2 linked regions of the Homo sapiens genome follow. The protein of the gene in region 1 interacts with the protein of each later gene in a pairwise test. Each region holds a gene or a part of one and is shown on either strand. Other genes may lie near its edges.

What was found. The genes of interacting proteins can lie anywhere in the genome.
Region 2: the proteins of BTNL9 (region 1) and EDDM3A interact in binary tests that used the Homo sapiens proteins (3 or more experiments, as listed by UniProt).

What each region holds. Positions count from the first base shown.
Region 1 is NC_000005.10:181,035,792-181,043,288, forward strand, and holds the start of BTNL9 (butyrophilin-like protein 9 isoform a precursor), read left to right. Parts: upstream 1-4,474; 5' UTR 4,475-4,641; intron 4,642-7,497.
Region 2 is NC_000014.9:20,741,874-20,748,890, reverse strand, and holds EDDM3A (epididymal secretory protein E3-alpha precursor), read right to left. Parts: upstream 3,005-7,017; 5' UTR 2,899-3,004; intron 1,337-2,898; 5' UTR 1,311-1,336; coding exon 867-1,310; 3' UTR 511-866; downstream 1-510. UniProt on the Homo sapiens protein: Possible function in sperm maturation.

The DNA of each region.
Region 1 (7,497 bases):
GAACTTCTGGGCTCTCGAACTCCTGGACACAAACAAGACCCTTGTTTCAGCTTCTCAAAGTGCTGTGATTACAGGCGTGAGCCACCACGCTCAGCTCCCCCTAGTTTATTATTATTATTATTACCACCTGTTTATGCAACTCAAACCCTGTCAAACTGCGTTTTGGCTGGCTCTCTGAAAAGGTGTAATATAAGGGCACCAACCCACTTCCCTCCTACAAATGGTCGGGACTCAGATGAGCACTGTTTTCACAGGGTCTCCTCCATAACCAATGGTCGGGACTCAGATGAGCGCTGTTCTCACGGGGTCTCCTCCATAACCAATGCTCACTCTACCTGGCGTAAGCCCGCAGCTGGAGCTCCTTATTCTACCCACTTCTGTGTGTCAGGAGAAGGTGCTGGCTACTTCTTGCAGTGAAGGAATTCCTCCGAGCTAGGGATGCTCCGTGCTGATCCCTTTGGGCAGCACCACTCAAGTCACCCTCGAAAATGGCTTGCCTTGGCGAGGTCAGGCTGTTTGGGAGTAGAGGGTGTGTGTGGCTCCTGCAGCCCCCACAATCTCAGGAGCCAAAGATGAGCACCTGTGGCTGTGAGGGCAGCAGTGGGCCTCTCCTATCTCCCAGTGCCTGTGCACGTCTCTATCTGTGTGACAAAGCACAATGGGGGGCACTGTGCCAGCTGACAGGCACAAGAATGTCAGTGTGAGCTCCCTGGAGAACGGAACAGGAGAAAATGAAAATGCAGTAAGGAAGCTCAAGGGCCATGTTGTGGGCTGCCGGGGAAGGTGGATGGGGGATCGTCAGAAAAGGAGGAATTCACTACTTGCGAGGCTGGCATGACTTTGCTTCTATCTCCACTGGTAGCCCACGCTGGGCGTGAGAATAGCCTTTGCCCTGGGGATGAGGATTCTCCCATTAGCCCCTCCAGAATTCCCTCAGACGACCTCATGGTGAGGGCTGCTGTGCACCACGGAAGCTATATAATGGGGCATGTTCTCCGCTGTCCAAGTGATGGCTCCATGCTGGCCTGGCTAGCCCCTAGCCTTTCCTACCCCACACGTGCCAATCACCTCCCTCCACGTGATGGCCGCTGCCATCACAGGGGCTGCAGCAGGGAGGCCTGGCTGGGGCTGCATACTTCACGGAGCCAGTAAGAGCTCTGCCCCTTCTGAGATGGGGCGGGAGCTCCCCGGGTACCGCTGCAGTCACCCAAACTGTGACTGCAGACCCAGGCCTCCTGCTGTACAGATCAGGCAGGATCCCAACCCTCCTGTGTGGGTCTACAGCCACCCAAACTGCAGCTGTGGATCCAAGCCTCCCTGAGCTCCTGGGTGGGAGCCAGGGGCAGGCAGGATCTGCCCTTCTGCGTGCAGCTGCAGCCACCCAACCCACAGCTGCAGACCTCAGCCTCCTGCTCCACGGAGGAGGCAGGAGCCAGGACAAGCAGGAGCCCTGCCCCTTCCGAATTGATGGGGCAGGAGCTCCCCGGGTGCAGCTTCGGCCACCCTCCCAGGAGCAGGACCCCGGCATCTGTGCATTCTGCACCTCCAGGGCCTGGGAAGAACCACCCTGTACCCAGCCCCCCAACCCCCATCCCTGCAGGCTCAGGGCTGTCTGCTTCCCACTGCCTGGCCTCTCTCTGCTCCCACTCTCAGAGCGGGGTTGGGGCCTAGCCAGGGACCATAAATGGCAGTGGGAGGCAGACAGAGTCCCTGGAGGGAGAAGGCGGGTCCCCAGTAAGGCCCCGCCTTCAGGCCAGGGAGGGCCTGAAGGCCTGGCTGCCAGTCCCTCTGACTGGAGTGGGGACTTGTGGTGTCTCCCTCTGGCTGCCCATGGACCAATCAGCATGCACTTCCTCCCCTCTGAGGTGCATAAAAGCCTGAGGCTCAGCCAGAGCAGGGCAGAGGATGGAGAAACGATGGGATGGCCAGCTGCAGAGAGGAGCTACCCTCTCTGCTGAGAGCTTCAGAGACCTGCAGAGGTGTTCAGAACAACTTGCCTGTGGAGAGGAGCCACTCTCTCCAGGGACTTCTGTCTGCTGAGAGCAGCAGGTGGCAGGAGGACCAGTGGGCAGAGAGGAGCTACCCTCTCAAGGGCCTTCTCTGCTGAGAGCTGAACACTCAGTGGGAGGGGAGGACTTACCTACAGAGAGGAGCTCACTGCAGATCACCTCTGAGCTGTTCTAGCATTCAATAAAGCTTCTCTGCATCTTCTTCACCCTTCACTTGTCTGTGTACCTCATGACCTCATTCTTCCTGGAGGCAGGACAAGAACTCAGGTGCCACAGAGGTTTCTGGGAAGAAAATTGACACCCAAAAATCCCACACAAGGACAGATGAGGGTCCATTCTCTCCAGTGGCACCTATAGTCCGCCAGGGGTTCAGCACCTACCTTCATTTTGGATCTGAGCCTTTATGCATTTACTGGGTCTTGGAATGGGAGGTTCGGCTGGCAGGGACAGCCGCTGTCTACATCTTTCCTACTGCATGATGCGCCTGATATGCAGGCGGTGGTGGCAGGTGGGGTCCCCCTCCCACATCCCACCAGGGCTGTGTCTAGGAGCCACAGAAGTGGACTCTGCCCATTTCTCTCTCTCTTTGCATTTCTGCTGTGACAATCTCACCTCTCCCCAGGCAGCATGGAGGAATCCAACCTAAGGGCAATGAAAAGTTTAGGCCATGTTCTCGTTTTCGAGCAGCCCCTCTCTACAAGTGCAATTTTCCTTCTCTTTCACTTCCCTATGTGGCATGCAAGGGCCTCTGCAATGTGGTCCCATCCACTTCTGTTCAACCTTCCCTTCCACTAGTGAGCCACACACTGGTCTGGCTAACCCCTAGCCTTTTCCTACCTCCCACATGCTAATCACCTCCCTCCACGAAGAATGTCTGTCCTCGCAGGCTCTGTCCTCCCGGGCTGCCCATGGCTTCCCTGATCCTACTGTTTATGCAGCATCCATCTTAAGTATACCCTGTCCTTGAGCCCTCCTCTGTCTCCCCAGGCCCGGGGAACTGCACCCACTGTTTGAGCTCACTGTTCAGCCCCTTTTGCTGTCCTAGGGACATCTGTTCACATTAATAAGCCTGGGTGCCCAGTCTCACCAGCCTGTCTGAGCACAGACAGTCACCTCCAGGTCCATGCCTGAAGCTTGCTGGCTCCCGTCTCCCACCCATGTAGCGCCCTGTCACCTGCAGAGGCCCCTCTACAAACACAGGCACTTCTGGGAGTCCCTGGGGTGTGCTACTGAGGCAGAAAATTTAAAAATACATATGCCTTCATTCACTCCAAGAAAAGTAACAGGCAAGGCAAGGGTTAAAAAGTAAAGGACAAGTTTTCCTCTGCCTATAGCAAGCCCACTGCAAGGACAGTTATAACAGTGTCCAGAAAGCCAAGGCCAAAGGAATGGGCTCCAGATACCCGCCGCCCCACTTCCAGAGCAAGGTTGAAGGAAAAAGAGAGAAAGACAAATTCTTTTACTGTTACTGTTTTCCCAGGCTTCTTAAGCATGATTGTGTTTTACAAATGTCTGTACTTAGCCAGTTCTTGTTTTTCTTTCAATGCAGCTACAAAGTCACCCGCTGTGCAAGGCCACAAGTTATGCTATGCTATAGATTATGTGACCTATCATGATTAGCTGCTTTTGTTTTATTTATTGTAAGTCCACTTACAAAAACCCCGCTCTGTCTTTGTTTAATGCTCAGCTTTTTGGATGTGAGTCCACTGAGCCGGTGTGTACCTAAAATAAACAATCCTCCTGTTCTTCACATCGGTCTCTCCGGTCCTCAGTTTCCCACAACACTGCATGTGCTTGAGCTGCTCGTGCCTCAGCTCTGGCCTGTTCCCTGGAGGGGACGTCAGTGTGGGCTGCAGCTGGGTGGCTGGTGCCTCAGTCCGCTAATGCCCAAGTTGCACCATGGCCTACAGTAAGATGGGGTGGGCTGGGCTGGGGTAGTGCTTGCTGCTTCTTTTCTGACCTCTTCTCCACTAGAGAAATCCCAATCCAGCACCCTCCTGCATTTCTAAGTTGCACGTGAACAGGTTTTGCAGGTTGCCTCACGACAATGCCCCCAGGATTTGTTCCTTACTGACCTTGTCCTGAGGAGAAGGTTATGGTGGGTTAAAAATTGGTCATCAGCCCCTTCCTCGTGGTTAGTTAGTGGAGACTGCAGTCTACTCTCTTTCACTGTTCGGGGACTGCTACCCTGCCTCCTTGGAGTCCGAGCTTCACTGGCACAAAGACCCTGAACCCAGCTGGAGCGTTTTCTCCTCACTTTGAGCCTCTGCAGCTGTCGCTCTCTACAAAGCTCTCAGATACCTTTCCCCTCCTTCTGTGACCCTGGAGAGATATTTTACATGGGAATTCAAGATTTTTCTCAGAGACAGGATGTGACGACTTCCTTGTTTTGTTCTATCCATCTTGGTTTCCATAGCCAAGGGCAGAGCAAACGGCATATATCTTAGGGTGGAAGATGGATAAATAATTCTGTCACACGTGCCCTGGCCTCTGGAGCTCAGCTGCCAGTCCACGTCTAGGGAATCTTAGCATCTGGGACCAAGACACTTTACAGCAATCATCACCCTTTGCAGAGGAGGTGAGCTCACCAGGACTCATCTGCCATTTCAGACCTTTTGCTGCTACCTGCCAGGTAAGTGGCTCATTCTCAACAGCTGCCTACACCTCCATCTTTCAGAAACGGCAATCAGAAAATGAAGGTGGGAGGCTTTGGGAAGGCGTACAATTAGTGGCACCATTTTATTATCCGAGCTTGGCCGCAGCATGGGATGTTTCGAGTGTGGCCAAGAGGAGATGTCCACGCCCGTTTAGGTGGGCCGCATCTCAGGAGGCAGGATCCTGATACATCCCATTGCCCCCACCAGACGAAAAAGATTTCAAGCCTCATTGCGGTTCCCTTCTTGGGGCAGTCCATCTTCCTTAGAGACTAAGAGGGTGGAAATCCTCTTGTGGACCTATCGAAATCAAACCAGCGCAGGCAGTGAGCACTAGCTGGGGTCTGCCGGGGGGAAGGGCATTGCAGGGGGTGTCGGGGAGGCCCGTGGGAGAGGGCCAAGGCCCCACTGACACCTGCGGACTTGCAGCTTGGGGAGTGGAGGACAGGAGACAGGCAAAATTCACCAGTTACACAGCTTACAGAAGTAGCAAAGCAAAGACTATACTTCAGGGATAATTTCTGTACTTTGTTACTAGAGAAGTTTTCCACTCTGGGACCCCACAGTCTCCGCAGACATATGCAGAGCAAAAAATACTTCCTGTGTTTGGGAGAGCAAGAGACATGGCATTTATTAATAACATGGATTTTCCTGCCAGGTTTCATAACGTGGTCATTTAAGTGTGAAATGTAGTCTTAAAATTATGTTAGAGAATCCCCAAGGTTTTGCTCTGCCCCCATGGAAACACTGGGATCGCTCAGGACGCCAACAGCTGCATAGCAGGCGAGGGACTCCTGTGGGAGGACGTGGCCTGTGGACACTGCCAGGTTCGGAGATGTCCTTGGGAGATTTACTATTTGTCAGGAAGATAGTGTTAAGTTCAGGCAAATAATTATATGTGTGGACAGAATCTGAAATTCACCAATAGAGTAAGTAAGAGTGAGAGATTGTGAATGTGTAATACAAATGGAAAAGCAGGTTTTATTTTGTTAAGTTATTCACCAGGGAACCAACTGAAGTTCCTTCTAATCCTCTTTTTCTCCATTCTTGCTTTGCTGAAAGTTGGAGAAAAGGACATGTGTAGAGAAAATGGGATGCTTCAGGGTGGCTCAGAGGACACCAATCCATAGTGATTCGCCTGAGTTTGTCAGGTGGAAGCAGTGATTTTTAAGAGTCACTGATTAAAAACAAACAGTCCTAAGTGTATTAGGGAGATGCCATTTATTTGTGAATCAAAAACTTTTCTCAGTCTCTTAAATTATGGTTTTCCTGTAATAAGAATGATTTATATTTTTAGTGAAAAGTTGTTTTCCTTTCAAATACAGACTTTTTAAAAAGACTTAGTTTGAGTAAGTACCTTTTCATTTGATGCTTTTCTTGTGCCTAACCTTAGGAAATCCAGAATAGTATTTGACAGAAATTATGTTTTCAACTTGCCTTTGACATCTGTCCCACTGCATTTTGCTTTAAAATTCTTTATTTAACAATAAATTATCTAAAAAAATAACAGTAGCAAAGCAAAAAGTACTCATCTTTAAAGACAGACTCGACGGAGGGACCGGAAATCAGAAAAACATCAGGGTTGTTTAGGAATTGCAGGTGCAGGAGGAGAGAACAGGAGTGGGGCGGGCTGGGGGCAATGAGAGAGCAAGAAGAAAAGAAAAATAAAAAGAGAAGGAGAAGAAAGAAATGGGCTTTTGCTGGGTGCAGGCAGTGACATTTCTCAGGACCCCTTATTTCTCCCTGTGCCTTCCGGAGGGAGCAGCCCAAGGCTCCTGGGAGGACAAGCAGCACGTGCCCGCCGGCAGAGCTCAGCTCCAGCTGGAGGACCCCTTTGTGGTCCTTGCGCACACTGGGTTTTCCTTCTTCCCCAAATATCCGACGCGTCCAGTCCCTTACTCCTTCCCCAGGCAAAACCTCCTCACCAGGAACAACCTGAAATCAATTTACACTGTAATCAAAATAGCAGAGGGTGGAAAGTGTTTCCTTCGAGGAGGGGACTTACGCTTCAAGTAAGGATTGAGCACCCTGGATCCTTAACTGAAGAGTGAGGTCAGAAAGGGCGGACGCACAGCAGCAAACGGGGAGGAGGGTGCTGTCCAGGAGCCGCTGACTTTTCCCTTCAGGAAGCTGCCAGACCATCTCTCTCTGCTAAAGGCTTTCAAGATGATACCCTTGAGTGTTGGGAGCAAAGGGACCAGGTACCTGTTCCTCCTGGCTCAGAAGATGCTCTTGACAAAGTCTTAGGGAGACCTCAGCTTTAAGTTGTTTTATCTGGCAGCGGGATTTTAAATTTTGTATTCATTAGTTGGCTGGTTGGCTGGTTTTGTGGCTGGCACCGTGTGAGCCGGTCGCTTCTTCAGTGCCTCTGTGTGATGGCAGGTTAGGGTGAGTGTTTGGTCTGTGGCCAGCTGGTTCCTGAGACGGTCATGGTTTTGGGTAACAGGAGTGACGGAAGGGTGTACCCAGACACACGACGTAGCTGGTGAGGAATCTGAATTCGAGAAGTGCAGAGCGAGGCTCTGGAACCAGACAGTGGGTGGAACCCCACCCCACCACTCACCCACTGTGTGCAGGAGCAAGTCACTCAGCTCCTGGGCCTCCGTTTCCTTATCTATAATTTGGACCTATTAGTAATAATAATAATAAAAATAATAATACTGAGGTATAGATAAGTGTTTGATAGATAGGAAGTACCCAATGCATGTTAGTTTTATTACTGTCAGCACGTGTGTGTGTGTGTATGTGTCTGTGTGTGTGCATCTGTGTGTGTGTCTATGTGTGTGTCTGTGTGTGTGTGCATGGGTGTGTCTGTGTGTGTGTGCATGTGTGTG
Region 2 (7,017 bases), on another chromosome or scaffold:
GCAGTGGCGTGATCTCGGCTCACTGCAACTTCTGCCTCCCAGGTTCAGGAGATTCTCCTGCCTCAGCCTCCCATAGCTAGAACTACAGGTATGTGCCACCAAGCCTGGCAAATTTTTGTACTTTTAGTAGAGACAGGGCCTTACCATGTTGGCCAGGCTGGTCTCAAACTCCTGACCTCAGGTGACCCACCTGTTTCAGCCTCCCAAAGTGCTGAAATTATGGGCATGAGTCACAGTGCCCAGCCCACTCCTTAAAACTGGATTTTGACCCTTTTGATTATTTCAAATTGCTACCACGATGAGTGCTTACATCACTACTTGTCTCCAGTTTAGCACACAATCATTTATATCCACATGATATACATAAACATATCACATACATTAGACACAGACACATAAAGTGCACATTAAACCCCTTGCACAGCCATAGGCAAAAATAGCCTAGATCACCGATACCCATACCAATCACACGATACATACTCTGCACACATAACATATATAAGCGTCACATACGTTAGAATAATATATTTTATTTAAGAAAAGGAGGGTCGTTCAGCTTGGGTAGGTATAAAGAGAGTCAATATCAGGAAAGTCTTAGGTTAGTCGAGGACAGATGCCATATGAGCTGAATCTTGGAAAAAATGTGGGTGTAAATTAGGCAAATTAGGACAAAATTGTATTACAGATACAGAAACCACACAAAGATTTGGTATCAAGAAATCACGAGGTACATAAACTCTAAGTAGTTGGAAAACACTGACACATAAATGTAAGCGGGGAGTGGCAGGGGCTATTGATGGAGGCAGGGCCCACCACTTTGGAAGCACTGAATACTCTACCAATATCTGAGGATGTGCATAGACTTTCTAGTTGCTGATAGGTTCTATAATCCTCAGGTCTTCTATGTTATCAACATATCCATCTACGCCACAATGGAATTCAATGTAGCTGAAGCTTCTGCTCTCTGTGTACCTATTGTTGTACTTCTCCCAGTGACACTCGAGTACTTTGAGGGCACCTGGGGCCCATACATATGCATTTCTATATCGGTCGCTCCCCTTCTCATTGATGCATGCACGCTGAATTTTGAACCATAAGCTATAGATGAACATATGAAAGCTCTTGCCTTTCAGAGCCTCTTTTTCTCTCATGAGGACATCACATTTGTACTCTTTGAATTCTCGACTTGGACTTAAGTAATGAAGTTTTATGAATTCTCTCCAGTAAATGTTGTTACTGTATACACACAGCCTGCAAAGGATGCAAAGCAGGGCCAAGAGTATGCCCCAAATCTTTAGAGAGGATGTCATCTCAGTCACCACGTCCACCTGCGTGTCTACAGGGAAGAGAAAGAAAAGCATTAACCAGACTATACTCAGAGAGCTGAGCTCCACCTTAAAATTCCTTTCCCTGCCAAGCAGGTACTTGGGCACTATATTGCTATTTGGTTCCATATTAGAAGATGATGATTCTCATTAAAGAATACAGTTTCTGGGCTGGGCACAGTGGCTTATACCCGTAATCCCAGCAGTTTGGGAGGCCAAGGTGGGTGTATCACCTGAGGTCAGGAGTTCGAGAAACACCGTGGCCAACATGGTGAAACCCCATCTCTACTAAAATACAAAAAGTAGCTGGACATGGTGGCTGTAGACCCAGCTACTCGAGAGGCTGAGGCAGGAGAATCGCTTGAACCTGGGAGGCGGAGGTTGCGGTGAGCCGACATCACACCTCTGCACTCCGGCCTGGGTGACAAAAGCAAAACTCCGTCTCAAAAAAAAAAAAAAAAAAGAATACAGTTTCTAAGAACTAAAAATATGCTTTAGCCTGTGAGAGCTAACACAAATTTGGAAAATATAGATAAAGTACCTTTTGAGAATTTCAAATATCTCCTGTCTACCCTGTCTTCTACCCAATTTGAGGAGCCAATCACTATCGAGCTCTCTTTTACCAAATAAGCTCTCAGGAGATCATGTGTCCAATAGAAAAATGACATTTTAAGCGTATTGTCTGCAAAGTGGAAAAGATTGTTGCATTTTAAGGGAATGTAGAAGATGAGTAACTACTTGGGAGGTGGTTCCTAGGCAGAAGGCATTGATTCTGGAAACCACAGCCCAGGCTGCAATTGCACTTCTCTGAAAAATGATGTTTTTCCAACCTTGACTTCCTTATAACACTTTCCCCAAAGTCTGGGTGAAACATGTGATCATTATTAACTATCGGCATCCCTTCTCAGAGGCCATTTCCCTAATTACTGCTATTACAAATGATCTTCATTTGTTAGAGCTTATTGACAATGCCATCATAAAAGGACATCAGTTTAGAACTGTTGCTGTAATCAATCAGGCACCAAAACTAAAACAGTCCCCCGCAGAGCTACTGTGGTCACAGCATAGGATGTATGGTCGTTTGAAAAAGTTATCTCTTTACCAGCTATCTGTCCTCATTTGCCATGAGGAGTATTCCTGGCCCTACTGAACCTCTAGCCTGATTCATAGCTCTGAGTATCGGTGTCCTCAGATAGGCCTAATCACAGCTCCCTACAGACCTGCAAGAGTCTAATGAGATGCAAGCATGTGAGAGCACTTCTAAAGATGTCAAATGCCCACATCAGGCACAGGGTTCCTCATCTGTGGAACCCTGTCCTGGTGATAAAGGCCTACACAAGATAGAAGAGTAGGATGCAAGCAGCTTTAATGCACTGTGCTTAGGAGGACTGGCGGTGAAGGAAGGGAGGGGCAGGGAAAAGCCTGTATCAGTGGGACTGAGGCTAACCAGAATTCAGACCTTTGTTTTCCATGATTTGGATCCTTCTCCATTGTTTGCTATCTAAAAGTTCAATCAGCCTCCTTCCAGTGTTCCTGGCTGTCCCCCGAGCAACCTCAGCAGAGCCCTTCTTACCCTACTTGGACTCTGAGTTCAGGTCACTGATTGTAGTGGGGATCAGCATGTGGATCTGAAGAGCAGAGTCTGCGTCCTCCTCCTTTTCTCAGAGCCCTGGAAATCTACAGCAGTGGAGAAAGGAATAGTAGGGGGAGCTGCAGGGCTCCAGCTGATTGGTAGCCGAGGTGGTGATGGGGAACAGCCTTATTATGTGAACTTGTCCCTGTATCGTTTCATCTGGAACACTTGGGCTCACTCAAACAGTAGCCTCGAGCAAAGGCTACAAACATCAAAGGCTGAGCCCTGGGTACAAAATGATTGCAAGACCCTAGGTGACCCCAGAAAAGGGTTATCTGGTGCTATCAGGAGACAACCAGAGACTTAGCTCTGCTCTCAATTCTAACAAACTTCTGGGGAAGTCCCTGGAGGGTTATGCTATGTTACATGGGAACTTCACTGAGGAAAGCCACCTTTTTTTTTTTTTTGAGATGGAGTCTCGCTCTGTTGCCCAGGCTGGAGTGCAGTGGCGAGATCTCGGCTCACTGCAAGCTCCGCCTCCCGGGTTCACCCCATTCTCTTGCCTCAACCTCCTGAGTAGCTGGGACTATAGGCGCCTGTCACCACGCCCAGCTAATTTTTTGTATTTTTAGTAGAGACGGGGTTTCACCGTGTTAGCCAGGATGGTCTCGATCTCCTGACCTCATGATCTGCCTGCCTCAGCCTCCCAAAGTGCTGGGATTACAGGTGTGACTCGCTGTGCCTGGTCTTTTGCCTTTTTTTTTTTTTTGACAGGGTCTTGCTCTGTCGCCCAGGCTGGAGTGCAGTCGCACAAACACTGCTCCCTGCAGTCTCAACCTGCCAGGCTCAAGCAATCCTCCCACCTCAGCCTCTTGAGTAGCTGGGACTATAGGCATGCAACACCATGCCTGGCTAGTTTTTTGTATTAATTTTTGTAGAGACAGGGTTTCACCATGTTGGCCAGGTTGGTCTTGAACTCCTGAGCCTAGCTAAGCCTCAACACATCAGCCTCTAAAAGTGCTGGGATTACAGGCATGAGCCACTTGGTCAGGCCAGAAAATCACTTTTAATGTTGTGAATTGTGAGACCTTCATTGAGAGGTGAAAGAATATCTAGTGAACACAGTGGCCAAATAGCTATGAATGATTAGGTAGCCAGTATCTGAAATTTCTCTACTCAGTTTTTTAATTATAACCTTTAGCTGTTTGGTGACACTGTACTGCTTACTATTAAAATGTCACATAGCCTGGCCATAGTTTCTACAATGCTACTATACGTAACATCTGACTGTGAAGTATAGGTCACAAGGTGCTGGCTAAGTTGTTTTTCAGGACCTCAAGATTCAGTCCTGAACTCAGCTCAAACTGACAAGACCACAACTTCTTCAACTGAGTTTGTGCAAGTGTTCAATGGTTACCTTTAACATCACAGCCGGAATTTTCCACCATATTTTCCATGCCAACTCCCCACAAATTGGCAAATGTGACCAATACTGGTTCATCAACACTAGTCAAAGTTACGATTTATGAATAAAGTAAGACTCTTGCAAATCTTTTCTAACAACACTTCCAAAGGCTGCTCCTAGCCAAACCACCTTAGTTGATTTTCTCACTGGGCCACCTTATTGTTGGAATGACAGAAGGTTCAGTTTATATCCAGAACTTATCTTCAAACCCCCACTCCTGTGAAGCAGTCCTTGAGTAATAGAAAATCATGTGCTGATAGACTGGATGGACGGGAGATAGTCTTAGAGCAGGTTCTGTGCATCCTTCTACTCTCTAGGTCTTTGGGGGACAGGGGAGAGCAAAACAGGAACAATTCTGGGCCTCTGAATTTGGATGATTTGAGAGGCGATTCTGAGGGAAAATCAGTTTTTTGTCATGTGCCCACACATCCAGAGCTCTTTCCAACAAATGTGCATTGTCTATTGAAGACAAATTCAAGTAGTGACTCAATGAATGTAGAGAGGTGGGAGAGAGAAGCCACCTGAGCCAATGTATGAGCCAGTGTTTCTCAAATACTTGATATTCCACTTTTAATATGGAAAAAAAATCATGGACTCCAAGCATACATCCATGAACTCTCCTATGAGCTAAGCCCAAAGTCCTAAAGCTTTTTGGATATAAACCCAATTAGGAGGCCATCTAAACTAAACTGGGGAAAAGCATATTGTTATATTTACAGAAATTAGCCACTATGAATGCAGCCCAGGAAGGTAACCCAACCAGTATTTCTGGAAACTACGTAATGGGTCTACTTCCTAGGGTTGTCTACCAGCTTGTGTAACAGAAGCTCCTTGGGCAGTGACTTTTGATTTCGGTTTTTAAGGAGGTATTCCCCTTTAAATATAAATTTTAAATCACTTGAAAATTATGTTCATCCTTTATTGTCTTTGATTTTAATTATTTTCTGTTAATTCCTTGATATGTCCTTTTATTATTATTATTATTATTTTTGGAATGGAGTTTCACTCTTGTCGTCCAGGCATGATCTCAGCTCACTGGAACCTCTGCCTCCTGGGTTCAAGTGATTCTCTTGCCTCAGCCTTCTGCGTAGCTGGGAGTACAGGTGCGCACCAACACATCCGGGTAATTTTTGTATTTTTAGTAGAAACAGGGTTTTGCCATGTTGGCCAGACTGATCTCAAACTCCTGACCTCAGGTGATCCACCCGCCTTGGCCTCTCAAAGTGCTGGGATTAAAAGCGTGAGCCACCGCACCAAGCCAATATTTCTTTTGTTAGCCACTATTCAATTCTTAAATGTTTGTGAACTACTGTTTCACAAAACCATAAAAGTGACTTAGGTTCCTCATTCAGGGGATGACAACGTCTATAGGTGTCTTAATCTGTGATCCACGGACTTCCAAGGGCTCCATGGATGGAATTCATAGGATCAATGCAGTAGTGCAGTGCAGAAAATTACATCTCTATTTTCACTCACCCATATTGAAATGTAGGGGCTGGGCATAGTGGCTCACACCTGTAATCCCAACACTTGAGAAGGTCAAAGTGGGAGGATCACTTGAGCTCACGAGTTTGAGACCAGCCTGGGCAACACAGGGAGAAACCCTATCTCTACAGAAAATTAAAACAATTAGTTGGGTGTGGTGGCACATGCCTGTAGTCCCAGCTACTTAGGAGGCTGAGGTGGGAGGATCACTTGAGGCCAGGAGTTGAAAACCAGCCTGGTCAACATAATGATAACCTGACTCTACCAAAAAAAAAAAAGAAAAATTTTTAAGGCCAGTAGTGGTAGCACGTGCCTGTAACCTCAGCTACTTGGGAAACGGAGGCAGGAAGATTGCTTGAGCTTAGAAGTTTAAGGCTGGACTGAGCTATGATAGCACCAGCCTGGGTGACTGAGTGAGACCCTGTCTCTCAAAAACAAAACAAAACAAACATAACAAAAACTAAAAAAAAACCCAAAACCCTAACCCCATACTCCTTGAGACACAGATGAGAAGATGAATGTAGGCATCAGGCCACACACCTATCGTGGTTACACGAGGATTCCCTTGGAGAGAGATAATGGTGGCTGTATTTTCACAATGCTCTGCTTTAGTCAGTTAAGAGAAGTCCAGATAAGATTTCTTACGCGAGGACCAGCAAGGTCTGTTGAGTACAAAGACTGGAGGAAATCAGACAACAAAAACTGAATACTTCCTCATACCTCTTCTCTCAGGTGGTATTGTTTAAGACTCAGCAGTGTGGTTCCCTCATATACTTTGACTGGTCCTGGGACTGCAGACTTAGCACTATCTGGTTTCCCATCTGCCCAGGATGGGAATCAGTACCCACCTCTTGTAGGAATTCTTCAGGGATGAGAGAGAAATTCTGAGCCAGTTGCTGCAACAATGCAGCTTGCAAGGTACGGGCTTGATCTGGGGACACTGTAATATTCACCCATCCTGGGGAAAAGGTAATATTTGCATTCAGTTCAGTCAAGAGATGATGTCCCAAGAAATCGATAAGGTATTCAGGCATATGTAAGAAGTGACGCTTTAGGCAAGTCTGTCACAGTTGGAAATCTAGGGGTTGCAGGAATGGTTCTTTTAGGGTCTCCTCTAAAACTGCCTTCACTTTCATAGTTTCAGAAGACAATTTGAACAAGTGTGTGTT